Regions from separate parts of the Homo sapiens genome. Here region 2 is linked to region 1. A link means that fine-mapping ties the variant in region 1 to the expression of a gene that starts in the linked region. Tissue or cell type: whole blood. Region 1 holds a variant in brackets; the other region holds the start of a gene. All regions are shown on one strand. Distances are from middle to middle.

Region 1 (6,270 bases):
CCTTCAAAAAAAAAAAAAAAAATCACATACTGTATGATTGATTCCATTCACATGAAATGTCTAGAACAGGCGAAACCCATAGGGGCAGAAAGCAGAACCGTGGTCGCAACAGCTGAAGGGGGAGGGGAACATGGTGACTGCTGATGGGGAGGGTTTTTCTTTATGGGGTGATGAAAATGTTTTGAATTAGACAGTGATATTGGCTGTACAGCCTCATGGATGTACCACAAATTACTGAGCTGTACATCTCACAAACAACAGAAGAGAATGTTTTTCTTGTAATCGCCCAGCAAACTCATATGCAAGAAATAGCTTATAAGCTAAATGTCCATCAACAGTGGGTTGACTCAATACATTAGGTCATATCCCTATGGTGAAACAATCTCCAGAAGGATGGTCCACTGGAAATGTTAAAATATGAAATGAAAAATGTAGCATTTAAAAAATTAGAGGCGAGGTGTAGTGGCTCATGCCTGTGATCCCAACAATTATTGGGAGGCTGAGGCGGGAGGATCACTTGAGGCCAGGAGTTCAAGACCAGTCTGGGCAACATGACAAGACCTCTGTCTCTACAAAAAATCCAAAATTAGCCAGGCATGATGGTGTGCACCTGTAGTACCAGCTACTCTGGAAGCTGAGGTGGGAGGATCGCTTGAGCCCAGGAGTTCAAGGGTACAGTGAGCTGTGATCACACCACTGCACTCCACTCCAGCCTGGGCAACGAGCAAGACCCTGTCTCTTAAAATAAATAAAATAATAAAAATAAAAATTAGAGATGTCATATGTACATAAATGACACACTGGGGAAGATACTCAAGGTAAGGCATTAATCTTACACTTACTTGAGTAGTAAGATTACAGGTAAATTATCATTTTCTAAAGTCTCATCGCGGATCAAGTATTGCTTTTGTGATCAGAAGAGATGCCATTTCAAGAAGAAAGGAAAGTGCCTGCTGGCAGCAGATGGCACCCTCGGGCCCTGCCTGTGGCGAGGAACTTGTTTCCCTGTGAAAGGAGAAGCCCATGGGAAGTATTCAGCCCCGCAGCTCCAGCCCCTTGGACCAACACCCTGAAGCTGGGAAGGCTATCTGGACAAGCATCCTGCTACTGAAGCACCCCTGGAGATGAGAAATCAGGGGAAGGGCCCTGACGTTCAACAGAGAGTTGAGTGTGGCATAAGAACAATGGCTTCTACCAGCAGGTTGAGACCGAGGCCAGGCCAAGGCTGGCCGATTGCCCACGGGTAGGTCAGATCGCTGATGGCCATCTCAACCCCAGACACCCTTCACTTGCCACAGGAAAGGCCCTCTCCTGCCTCCCTGCCCTGGTTGGCTGGAAGCTCTGGTGGCGTGGGAGGGGGAATGGGTGGACAGAGAGAGCCAAGGGGCCCCATACAGAGATGTCACAGGTAGAAAAACCAATGAGGTACTGCCCAAGGGAACCGGCTGGGCTTGGAAGGGCCAAAGGGAACAAGAGAGCAGAGTGGGGAGGTAGAACCCAGGATTTCACCGAGAGCATGAGCCTGGGTCCTTCTGGGTCAGCCATTCCTGGGGCCATGTGGATGGGTGTCTTCCTTTGCTTCCTGCTGCTATAACAGAGTACCACAGTCTAGGTAATTTATAATGAACAGACATGTTTCTGGCTCACAGTCTGGAGGCTGGGAAGCCCAAGGTGGAGGGGCCCCATCTGACTAGGGCCTTCTTGCTATGTCACCACATGGAGGAAGGCATCGCATGGGCAAGAGAGAGGGGAAGGGGGCCATGCTCACCCTTTATAAGGACCCCACTGCAGCAATAACAAACCCACTCTTGCAATAACATCAATCCGCTCAGGAGGGCAAAGCCTTCATGACCTCATCACCTCTTTAAGGTCCCCCCTCTCAACGCTGTTGCAGTGGGGATTAAGTTACCAACACATGAACTTTGGGGCACACATTCAAACCACAGCAGGGGGCACTGTTTGGATGCCAGTGGCCCAGGAACACTGCCTTTGGAAGGGTGTTTATCCCCTGTGGCCAGTTGCTGAACAGACAGGGTAGGGCCATGAGGAGGACCTCAGGGGTAGATCAGACACTATGTGTCCCCCAAAAGCCAAGTCTAGTGGGGGAGCCACACACATTAACAATACAGAGCCGAGAAGTGAGCTGGTGCCCAGCGGGTCCATCCCTGTGGTGAGGAAGGGAACAGTACGGGTGAGATACAGCCACAGCTCAAGTCACAGAAAGACAGGGAGCCATGAGAAGCAGAGGCTAGAAGAGTGAAGGGCACCTGCCCTGCCAACAGCTTCCTGTGTCTCACCACAGAGTCTGAACCCTTGTCACTGATGTTCTCAAGTCAGTGGATCAACGTCACTTCAGCATGTTCACCCGGATGTCTAAAAGTCCAGCCACCTTCTGCAGCTGCCAGACACT[C/T]CCGCACCGGCTGCCTGAATGTTGCTTCCTGCCACTCTCTTACAGAAGGCAGCAAAAACTCCCTGCAACAGCCCCACTTCGGTTTGAACTACTATGAAATGTCATTCTCTGGTAAAGAAAGGCAGTGCAATTCTAAACAGTCACATCAATACCAAAGGCTGCCCAGCCTGTGTCTTCAGCTGTGTCACAGTTAGGCCACAGGACAGTGGCCAGGTTTCCAAAGTGCTCCTCTTGAACAGCACACAGGGGGGATAAATGGCTGATGTCATCATTGGGGTGGGAAAAGTGGTGAGGGGAGCCTCTGAGATGTTGGGAACATGGAACACGTCTGAATTCAGCAATTGGATAGAGCAGAAGAGGGAAGTTTACTGAACTTATAATTTTAATTCCAATTACTATGGAAAAGAAAGACCATAGCAAAGCCCAAATGAATCTGATGCAGCAAATTTAGCAAGTGAGTATGCAAACAGAAAGACAGGACTTTGCCACCTTGAACCTCTAGGAGTCTGTGAAAGAAGAGAATGCCAACTTTGGAAAGACTAACAGCATCACAGTATGTTTCTCATTATGACATCAGATACATTAATTTTTGAACTCTTGAAACCATTTGCAAAGGCTAATGAAGAGAAAAACAGCCTGTAGTCCCAGCTACGGGGAGGCTGAGGCAGGAGGATCCCCTGAGCCCAGGAATTCAAGGCTAGCCTGCGTAACATAGCAAGACTCTATCTCTAAAGAAAAATAAATAAAAAACAAAAACAAAGAACATCAAGAGTGACTGGTAGGCTCCAGAGGCAAGGTTTAATTGTGCTTGGATGTGGGAAAATTAGCAGCTCGGGCATTTGTACAACCACATACCAATTCTAATGAGCCACCTTGGGCCCTGACGCAAATGGTGGGCTGGCTGCTTCTTGTAAAAGTCATCCATCCATCCACCCACCCACCCACTCATCCATTTACCCATCCATATATTTACCTATCCATCCATCCACCCATCCATTCATCTACCCATCCACCAATCCATGCATCCATCCATCCATCCACCCAACTAATCATCCATCCATCTATCCACCCATGTACCCACCTGTCCACCCACCAATCCGTCTACCCATCATCCAATCTTCCACTCATCCACCCACCCATCTACCCACCCACCCATCCATTTATCCATCCATCCATCCATCCATCCATCCAATCATCCATCCACCCATCCACTCATGCACCCACCCATCCACCCACCCATCCATCCACCCATCCACTCATCCATCCACCCATCCACCCACCCATCCATCCACCCATCCACTCATTCATTTGCCATCCATCCATCCACCCACCCATCCATCTAATCATCAGTCCATCCATCCATCCATCCATCCAACCATCCAACCGTCCATCCACCCATCCATCCATCCATCCATCCATCCATCCACCTGCCCTACAAACATGCACTAAGCACCAACTATGATCCAGGAATTGCACAGTTCAGCCCTAAGGAGCTCACGATTTGATGGCAGAGATCAATAGGTGAACAGTTAATTATCACACACGGAAAGTGTAACAGAGGAACCATCAAGGGTGTTGTTGTGGGAGGTCAGAGGGGAGACTCCTCACTCAGGCTGGAGAGAGGTCTGGAGTGCCAGGGAGGGTTCCTGGAAGGCGCAGCATGAGGACAGCTTGAATGAAAGCCAAGAGGTGGGAAGCAGCCGACAGACTGTAGGGAACCCCCTGGTGATGCTGGGAGAGACCAGGCAGAGGTTGAGGCTAAGCAGAGGCCCACTGGGAGGGCTGGACAGTTCGGACCTTGGCCTGTTGGTCAGTGCCCCCAGAGGATGCTCCACAGAACGCAATTCCCTGTAGGCTACACTTGAGGGAAAAAGAGTTTGAGGAACAGAGCACAGGTGCTCTCTTTCTTGGAGCCCCCGCATCCACATTCATTGACATCAATCGACAGCTCAGGCTCGCTGTGGAGCATGTGGCCACACAAGACCGGATTCACGTGTGTACGCAGTGGAGGGAGTCAGCCAGCCTGCAAATGAGTGTTCAGAAATGAGACCATTTCCCACCGTGATAAAGGCCGTGTCGCCCAGGCTGGAGCACAGTGGCGTGACCACGGCTCACTGTAACCTCAAGCTCCGGGCCCCACATGATCCTCCAACCTCAGCCTCCCAAAGTACTGAGATTACAGGTATAGGCCACCGTGGCTCGCCTGGGGCTTTGAAGACCATGATGGGGAGGAGGAGAGCGCGACGGGGCACAGTGGTGGACAACCCAGCTTTCAGAGGAAGCATTTTGGTGGAGATTTCACCAATGAGATGGAGAGGACCTCAGCAGCAGGAGCCCAAGATGGGCTGAGCACAGCCTCCCAGGAGTCAGAGGTGAAGGCCTTGCTGCCCGGTCACACTGGCCACCAGGTCAGGACAATCCCACAGTCCTGGACGCCTCTGGTTCCCCAGAGGAGTTGGAGCCTGCTGGGACATCTTGTCTCCTCTTATGGTGCCTCACAAAGACCTCCGGGGGGCTGAGTCTGCAATGCACAAGGCCTGGCTTTGACTTCCTCTGTGAGTCCTGGGATCAGGGAGGGCTGAGACACCCTTCCAGGAATCGGCTCTGGAACTGTCTGCCAAAGTCGTACCAGCTCAGCTCAGGCCACAGCGGAAACCAACAGCAGGTAGACCCCTCTTCTTGGCAGGTGCCCTGAGTCTAGTACGGCAAGGATTTAGCAGGGAGGCGCGAGTGTGCTGTTTGGGGTTGAATTGGGGCCCCCCAGCAAGCTCATATGTTGAAGTCCTAACCCCCAATACCTTAAAATGTGACCTTATTTGGAAACAGGGTCATTGCAGGTGTAACTAAAGTTAAGATAAGGTCATCCAGGAGTAGGGTGGGCCCTAAGCCAACTTGACTGGTGTCCTTACCCATGGGGAAAATTTGGGTGCAGGCCCACACCTGGGCAGAACCCCACGTGGACTGAAGGCAGGGACTGGAGTGATGCTTCTGTAAGCCAAGTACACACCCAAGATGGCCAGCAAGCCCCCTGAGGCTGGAAGGCAGCCCAGGACAGATTCTCCCTTATGGCCCCAGAAGGAACCAGCCCTGCTGACACCTTGATCTCGACTTCTGGCCTCCAGAACTGCAAGACAACAAACGCCCTCGTGATTTAACCCACCTTGCCGCGGTGCTTCGTCACAGCAGCCGGGGGAACTAACACGTGGCGCTGACCCCGCCATGGCGCCGGCCCCACTGTGGCTGCCAGGCCTTTGCACTGGTGTCAGCCCTAATAACTTCCAGCAGCAAGTAAGCTGATTTCTTCTGAGCAGGCTGGAATCTCCCTGCTTCCTTTCCTCTCCAGCCCCTTGCAAAGTCATTCTCTCTCGTGGTTTTCCTGTGTGACTCGCCTTCCCAAGGAAGTCAGTCTTCTCACCACAGCTCCTGACTGCAGCTCCACAGCCCCTGGGTTGAGCACAGGCTGGGACTGAGAAGGAGACGAATGCTGTTCCGTGACCAGGGCATCCTCAGAAGGGCCGCTGCCACTGTGGGCCAGAATGAAGGACAGAACCGAGGGACAGGAAGGAGGGCTGGGCCGGTCCAGGAGGGCAGGCGCCCATCCCAGAAACAGCTCAGCGGGAGGGAGGGAAATTGAAGCCGGGATCTCAGGGCTGCCCCGCCCTGGTCAGCTGGCCGGGGTCTGTGGTCCCCACAGGCAGGCACTAGCTTGGTCCGCAGGTCTCTCCTGGATGTGTCACCCGGTCTTGGCGCATTGTCTTGGAGCACCCTCCAATGTCCATATTCCTCCGGTCTCAGGGTGTGGGCACAGGTCCAGGGGTCCTTCCAGACACTCTGGGCCCAGTCACTGCTCCCCCACCCAC
Region 2 (5,594 bases), 21 kb before region 1:
ACAGGTGGGCAGAGAGCTCAGACTGCCTCGGGGCACCTCCAGACCCAGCCCTGAGGCCTCTCCCTGCCCTCAGGACCTGGCTCCTTCCTGAAGCTTCTTGCTGACCACTGCCTGCTTCAGGAACTTGGGATCTGGCGTCTCCTGTCCCAACCACTCAGGCCAAGGGCCTGCCCCTCCCACCCGCTGCACCAACAGGCCCTGGGCCTCCTTGTGTAGCCTCAGCAGAGCCTCCAGACCCAGGTCTCAGGGTCCGGGAGGGCCTGTTGGTCACATGGGCTGGACAAGGAGCCTCCGAATCACTGCCAGGGCCAGCCAGGGCCGACCAGGGCCAGCAGAGGCCACAGCCATATGCTCCTCACTGGCCTCACAGAGATAGGCCCCTACGCCAGCGTTTCTGCTTCCCCAGAATAGGCAGGCCGCAGGAATGAGCCGTACTCTCTGTCCTCAGCCCAAACTGCAGCCTGGCCACGTGGGTCTGTAGTCAAGAGGGAGGTCGGGGTCAGCAGGTGCCCTTCAACATAAAAGCCTACCTGCCTACCCCTTGAAGGGTGGCACGGGGCTGGACCCCACCCTGGAGGCAGGGGGCCCTCCTCCAGCAGCCAGGGCCCCTCTTGCAGCTCCTCCTGGGCCCAGAGACCCTTGGGGTCCATCGAGGGGGATGTTTGCAACATGGGTCCCAGGAGCACTCTATCCCTCAGGAGAGGTGGGACCTGTCCCCGCTGAGGCCAGGCCAAGTGCGTTCCCAGCATTCCCGTGACCCCAGGAGACAAGCACACTTCCCACAGAATGGACCCCCCTGCAGGCTGGCCCCAGTGCTCTGCCGCCTCCCTCAACCCTGACACTGTCCTCCGGCCCCACTCCCTACCCTTGCCCCAGCCTCACTGTGCCATGTCCCCTCCCTCACCTTGGCAGAGCATGGAAGCCTCACAGGTGGGGACAAGTCAGGGGCTCAGAGATCCTCTGGCCCCCTGCTCCGCCCAGCTACTTGTCTGGGCTGGCTGAGGAAACCTCCAGGGCAGTGCTGCCCACCCGAGGAAGGGGCCAAGCCGCCAGCCCTGGGCTGCCTCAGGCCCCGGGGGAGCGGGGCTCGGCCCAGAGGAGCCAGGGGAGATGCACCAGAGTTGGGGAGCCCTCTGTCTCCCTCACCAGTGCCCCCATGGTCTCTGTCCCAGCAGAATGTGGACAGCTGGGACCCCATCTCAGGAACAGGCGTCATCAGAGATGGGTGAGTGGCAGGCAAGTAACCAAACCTCTCCTTGCCTCAGTTTCCTTGGCCATAGAGATAAAAATCACATCACCTCTCTGAGCCTGGGGTGAAGATGAACTGGCTGCATGTGTGAAACGCTCAGCATAGAGGCAGTGTTCGGGCAGCCTTGGCCAGGACGCTGGTTGTCAGCTTTGGATTCTCCATGCTGGGGGAGCCCCAGCTCACGCCCCAGAGTTCTCCACGGGTCAGGGACTTGGTTTGGAGAGAAGCGGCAGCGGGGGCCGGGCTTGCTCACTGAGGAGGCCTGAGGCAATGGTTCCCTCGTCACACTCCTGTCCTTCCCCAAACTGTCCCCAGTAGGGGACCAGGGGCTGGGACTCAGGGACGGGTCCCAGCCAGGGCAGCTGGAGACTCAACCAATTCCTCGCCTGGCTCAGGATGCCACAGAAATGGGTCCCTACACCAGCCTTTCGGATTCCCTAGAACAGGTGGACCACAGGAATGAGCCATGCCCTGGGGCTCTGAAGCCCCCTACAAACGCAGCTCCCAGCCTGCTCACACAAAAGGGCTGGGCCAAGGTGGGCCCAGACAGGACCAGGTGTGCTATGGTCCTCACAGCAGCCAGGAGGGTGGAAATCCCCGGGGAGCCCCGGCCCAGGGTCCCCACTCCCCACGCGGGGGACCTGTACGCACCCCAGCTTCAGGGCTTCTGCTGCCTGAACACGAGGTCAAGGTATGGAGGGCGCAGCTGGCACCCGTAGTAACGACTTCATGGGGCCCCTGCCCTGCAGCCTGCCCCCTCCTCCCGCCCCCTTAAAAGGCCTCTGTCTTAAAAAAGAGGACCCCCATACTGGTGGCTGGAGTTTCGCTGTGTCAGGAGGCTGGGCAGAAGCGGTGGGCACCCTGGGAGGAGTGAGGGCCCAGGACAGCGCCTCCACTCGCTTCTCTGTCTAGGCTCCTGGGGGCGGGGGAAGGTGGCCGAGCAGCAGAGTTCGGCTGGCAGAGCCAGTCGAAAGGAGGCCGCCCACCCACCCGCGGAGAGAAGGGGTTAGGGCCGGCAGCCCCCGCAGACCCTGGCTGAGCCTGTTTCCCCAGACCCACGGGGCACCGGCCAGCGCCCGCTGACAACTTTTCTACCGCCTGGAAAAGTCCAGAACAACTCGGGGGCGGGGAGCGGGCGCGGGAGCGGACCCCGGCGGCGGGCGCTGTACGCGTGGCACTGTTTACGCGAGCGGCCCGGGAGGCGCGGCCGCGGGAAGATGGCGACGGCGAGGGCGGGGCCGGCCGGGCGGGGCTGCGGCCGCGGCCTGCGCGCCTCCTCCTCCAGGCTGGCCGCCGGGGCGCGCGGCGGCGGCGCTGAGGGCCGCGGGCCGGGAATCGGGGCCCGGAGAGCACGCTCCGGGCGGGGGCGGGGGTTCGGACCGGGCCGGGCGGGGTCGGGAGCGGGGGGCGGTACCTGTTGTTCGGGGCCTTGCGCACCAGGCCGGCCGCCTTTGTTTTCTCCCTGGCGAAGTCGCCGTCGAAGGGCAGCACCGAGGCGTAGCCGTGCTCGGCCTCTGCGGACACACGGCGCGGTCAGCGGCCCCCGCCCGGCACGGCCCCGCCGCCCGCCCACCGCCGCGGGCGCACAATGGGGTGCGAGCGCTACCTCGATCCCTGCGCTCCAGGTACTCGGCCGCCTCCAGCAGGATCAGCAGGGAGTTCAGCTCCATCCTCCCGCCCGCGCCCGTCCGCCCCGGGACGGCGGCGGCCGCTGCCCGGCCCGCTCCGGCCGGCTCCGCTCGCCGCCCACCCCGCGCGCCCGGCCGCCGCACTTCCAGACTCCGCGGACTCCGGCGCTCGGCCGCCACCCTCCGCCTCAGGCCCTCAAATTGACACATAAGGGAGAGCGGCGGCCCGCAGAGCCAATGGGAGGCGGCGTTCGCGCCCCGGGGGCGGGCGCCGGGCCGGGCTGGGGCCAATGGGGACGGGTCGAGCGCCTCGGGCCGGGCCGAGAATGTTGACAGATGCAGAGCTGGGCTGGGATAGGCCGGCCGCGCTAGTAACAATTTAGAAGCCCGAGCTTAGCAACAGCACGTGGTGGCCCGGCCCCCGCGCTAGCTGACTGGCGGCCGCCGTGCATGTTAAGTAGGCGCCGCGCGCCGATTGGCCAGAGCGGCCTATGTAAAACAGGCACTGCGAGCCAATGGCCGGTGGCGGGGCGCGCGGCCAATGAGGGCGCCGCAGCCGGACGCGTTGCCGAGAGGAAGCGCAGCGCGCGGGGACCGCCCGCCGTCCTGGGGGCCCGTTAGGACGCAGGAGCGTCTCCGCTACGAGAGCGAAGCAGGGCGCTCCGGGGCGTGCGCCGGGCCGGGCCGGGCCGCCGGGTCTGAGCGCGACGAAAGCAGTGGCTGCGTGGGGGGACGAGGCCTCGCGCTCTGCCCGGGGGTCTTGCGTGGGGCCGTGAACGACTCCCCTCCCCGCCGGGCGCAGAGTGGCCCCGGGAAGGGCCGGGACCTCGGAGAGGGACGCAGACGCTCTGATCCTAAGAGCCAGGCGTCTCTGAGGGTGTCAGTGGGGAAACAGGCCCAGAGCGGGCGGGCTCCTCAGATCGCCCAGTGGACGCCGGAGCTGAGGGAGGGCCCAGGTCTGGGGAAGGGACACAGACGTGCGGCCAGAGTCGAGAGGCTCCCCGGAGTGGGGGGCTGCATGCTCTGTGTCTGGCCTGAGGGGCAGGGACGTTCCTAGAGGCAGGCGCTGGCCACCTCTGGCCGAGGACGCCCTAAGTGGGGACGGGAGTGAACCCTTCATCAAATCCCAGCTGGCGGGTCTCCCTAGTGACCCCTGACCCTAAGGCTGGCCCAGACTGGCCTCGGCACCCCCCACCCTCTCGCAGATTTTTTTTTTTTTTTTTTTTGAGACGGCTCTGTTGCCCAGGCTGGAATGCAGTGGCGTGATGTCAGTTCACTGCAACCTCCGCCTCCCGGGTTCAAGCGATTCCCCTGCCTCAGCCTCCCAAGTAGCTGGGACTACAGGCGCGTGCCACCACGCCCAGCTAATTTTTGTATTTTTAGTAGAGATGGGGTTTCACCATGGATGGTCTGGATCTCCTGACCTCGTGATCCGCCCGCCTCGGCCTCCCAAAGTTCTGGGATTACAGGTGTGAGCCACCTCGCCCGACCCATCTCACTGATTTGATTTTTGAGGTTGGTGGCCTGGATGTGCCAAGGGCCAGGCCCCGCAGGCTGGAGAGTGTGGAGGCATAAGGTGGCTGGACCCCTCCAGAAGTACTCAGTGGGACACAGGGGCTGCTGCTGGCAATGAAACTGAACAAAAAATGCAAAACCTCAGCACCAGGACTCCTGTGAAAGCTTCGTGTGCATCTCCCTGTGTTTTGCATGCCCGGCTTGCAGATCAGGACATGGGACTAGACGCTCAGGGATTTGCTGGGGTCTCCCAGAAATCTCAGCAGAATGGAGATTAGTGCTGCCACACACGGCTCAGGGCTATAGGAATGCAGAGGCCAGAGCCTCCTGGCCTGGCTGGTCCTGCTGGGTGTAAGCCTGTGGTGTGGGCTTCAGAATAATGTGTGTTCCCACAGAGCCCTGCAGGACCCAGTGGGGAACTCGGACACTGCTATGAGACAGCCCTGCATGGACATTGAGACAACCCCCTTGATGTTAGCAGGGGCCCTTCCTGTTCCCGCCCCACAGTGACGCCAGGGCCCAAGGCAGAGCCCCTCACAAGAACTCAGCACTGAGGCCCTCCAGGTTTGTCTGCATGGCTGCTCAGAGCTGTGCATGGTAAAGAAAGGTGCCCAAGTCTGGGGAGGAGCAGGGTGTGTTTGGGCTCTGGGGACCCAGCTCTCCACTTGGGGATGAGCATTTTGCAAAGTTGCCCCATCCCTGCTTTGGCCACTGGGTGAGTTGCTGCCGACAGCTAAAGCGGACACCTGGCCTAGTACAAGTGCACCTGCTGGGCATAGTGCACGCCCCCTTCCTGCCATGGGCCAAGAGATTTGTTCTGTGTGGCAGTGGGCAGCACAGGTGCGCAGGTGTGTCTATGGGGAGGCACCTGCATGCTACCCCAGTCTAAGAGATTTTTAGCCTCAATTTAGGCCATTTAAGGACTCACCCTCACCTCCCCACCACACTGAGGACCAAGCACTTCCCTGGTGTCCCTGGGCTCAAACCTTGCCTGGTAGTGTGGGCACCACTGCCTGGGGGAGCAGGAAGGAGTTGGGGTTGGGAGGAGAAGCTGCAGGAGGCGATGGATGACTGAGGGCTGAGCTGCAGCTAGGGAGGGAGGTACTGGAGGCATCGGCCAGCAATGGCAGGAGGAGAGGGAAGGGGAGGGAGCAGCCAGGAGAGGCCTGGAGGTGATGTTGGCCTGGCCCAGATGGCTGCAG

Evidence for each region. PIP is the estimated chance that this variant, and not a neighbour inherited with it, causes the effect.
Region 2: it holds the start of MXD4, and the variant in region 1 is fine-mapped to the expression of MXD4 in whole blood (TOPMed, PIP above 0.99).

The regions. Positions count from the first base shown.
Region 1 is chr4:2,279,773-2,286,042 of GRCh38, forward strand. All of the region lies in intron 8 of ZFYVE28 (zinc finger FYVE-type containing 28), which reads right to left. Among named protein-coding and RNA genes, the nearest start is that of MXD4, 21 kb to the left of the region's middle. RefSeq lists enhancers at 784-1,285, 1,286-1,785, 2,554-2,613, 5,694-6,195, 6,196-6,270. The variant C/T (reference allele first, on the strand shown) is at 2,411.
Region 2 is chr4:2,259,062-2,264,655 of GRCh38, forward strand. MXD4 (MAX dimerization protein 4) reads right to left here and starts at 3,048. Exons shown (of 6, transcript NM_006454.3): 1 at 2,856-3,048; 2 at 2,664-2,763. The coding sequence starts at 2,919. RefSeq lists enhancers at 1,575-2,167, 3,399-4,060, 4,061-4,720 and silencers at 2,268-2,327, 2,338-2,727, 2,818-2,877, 2,928-3,767.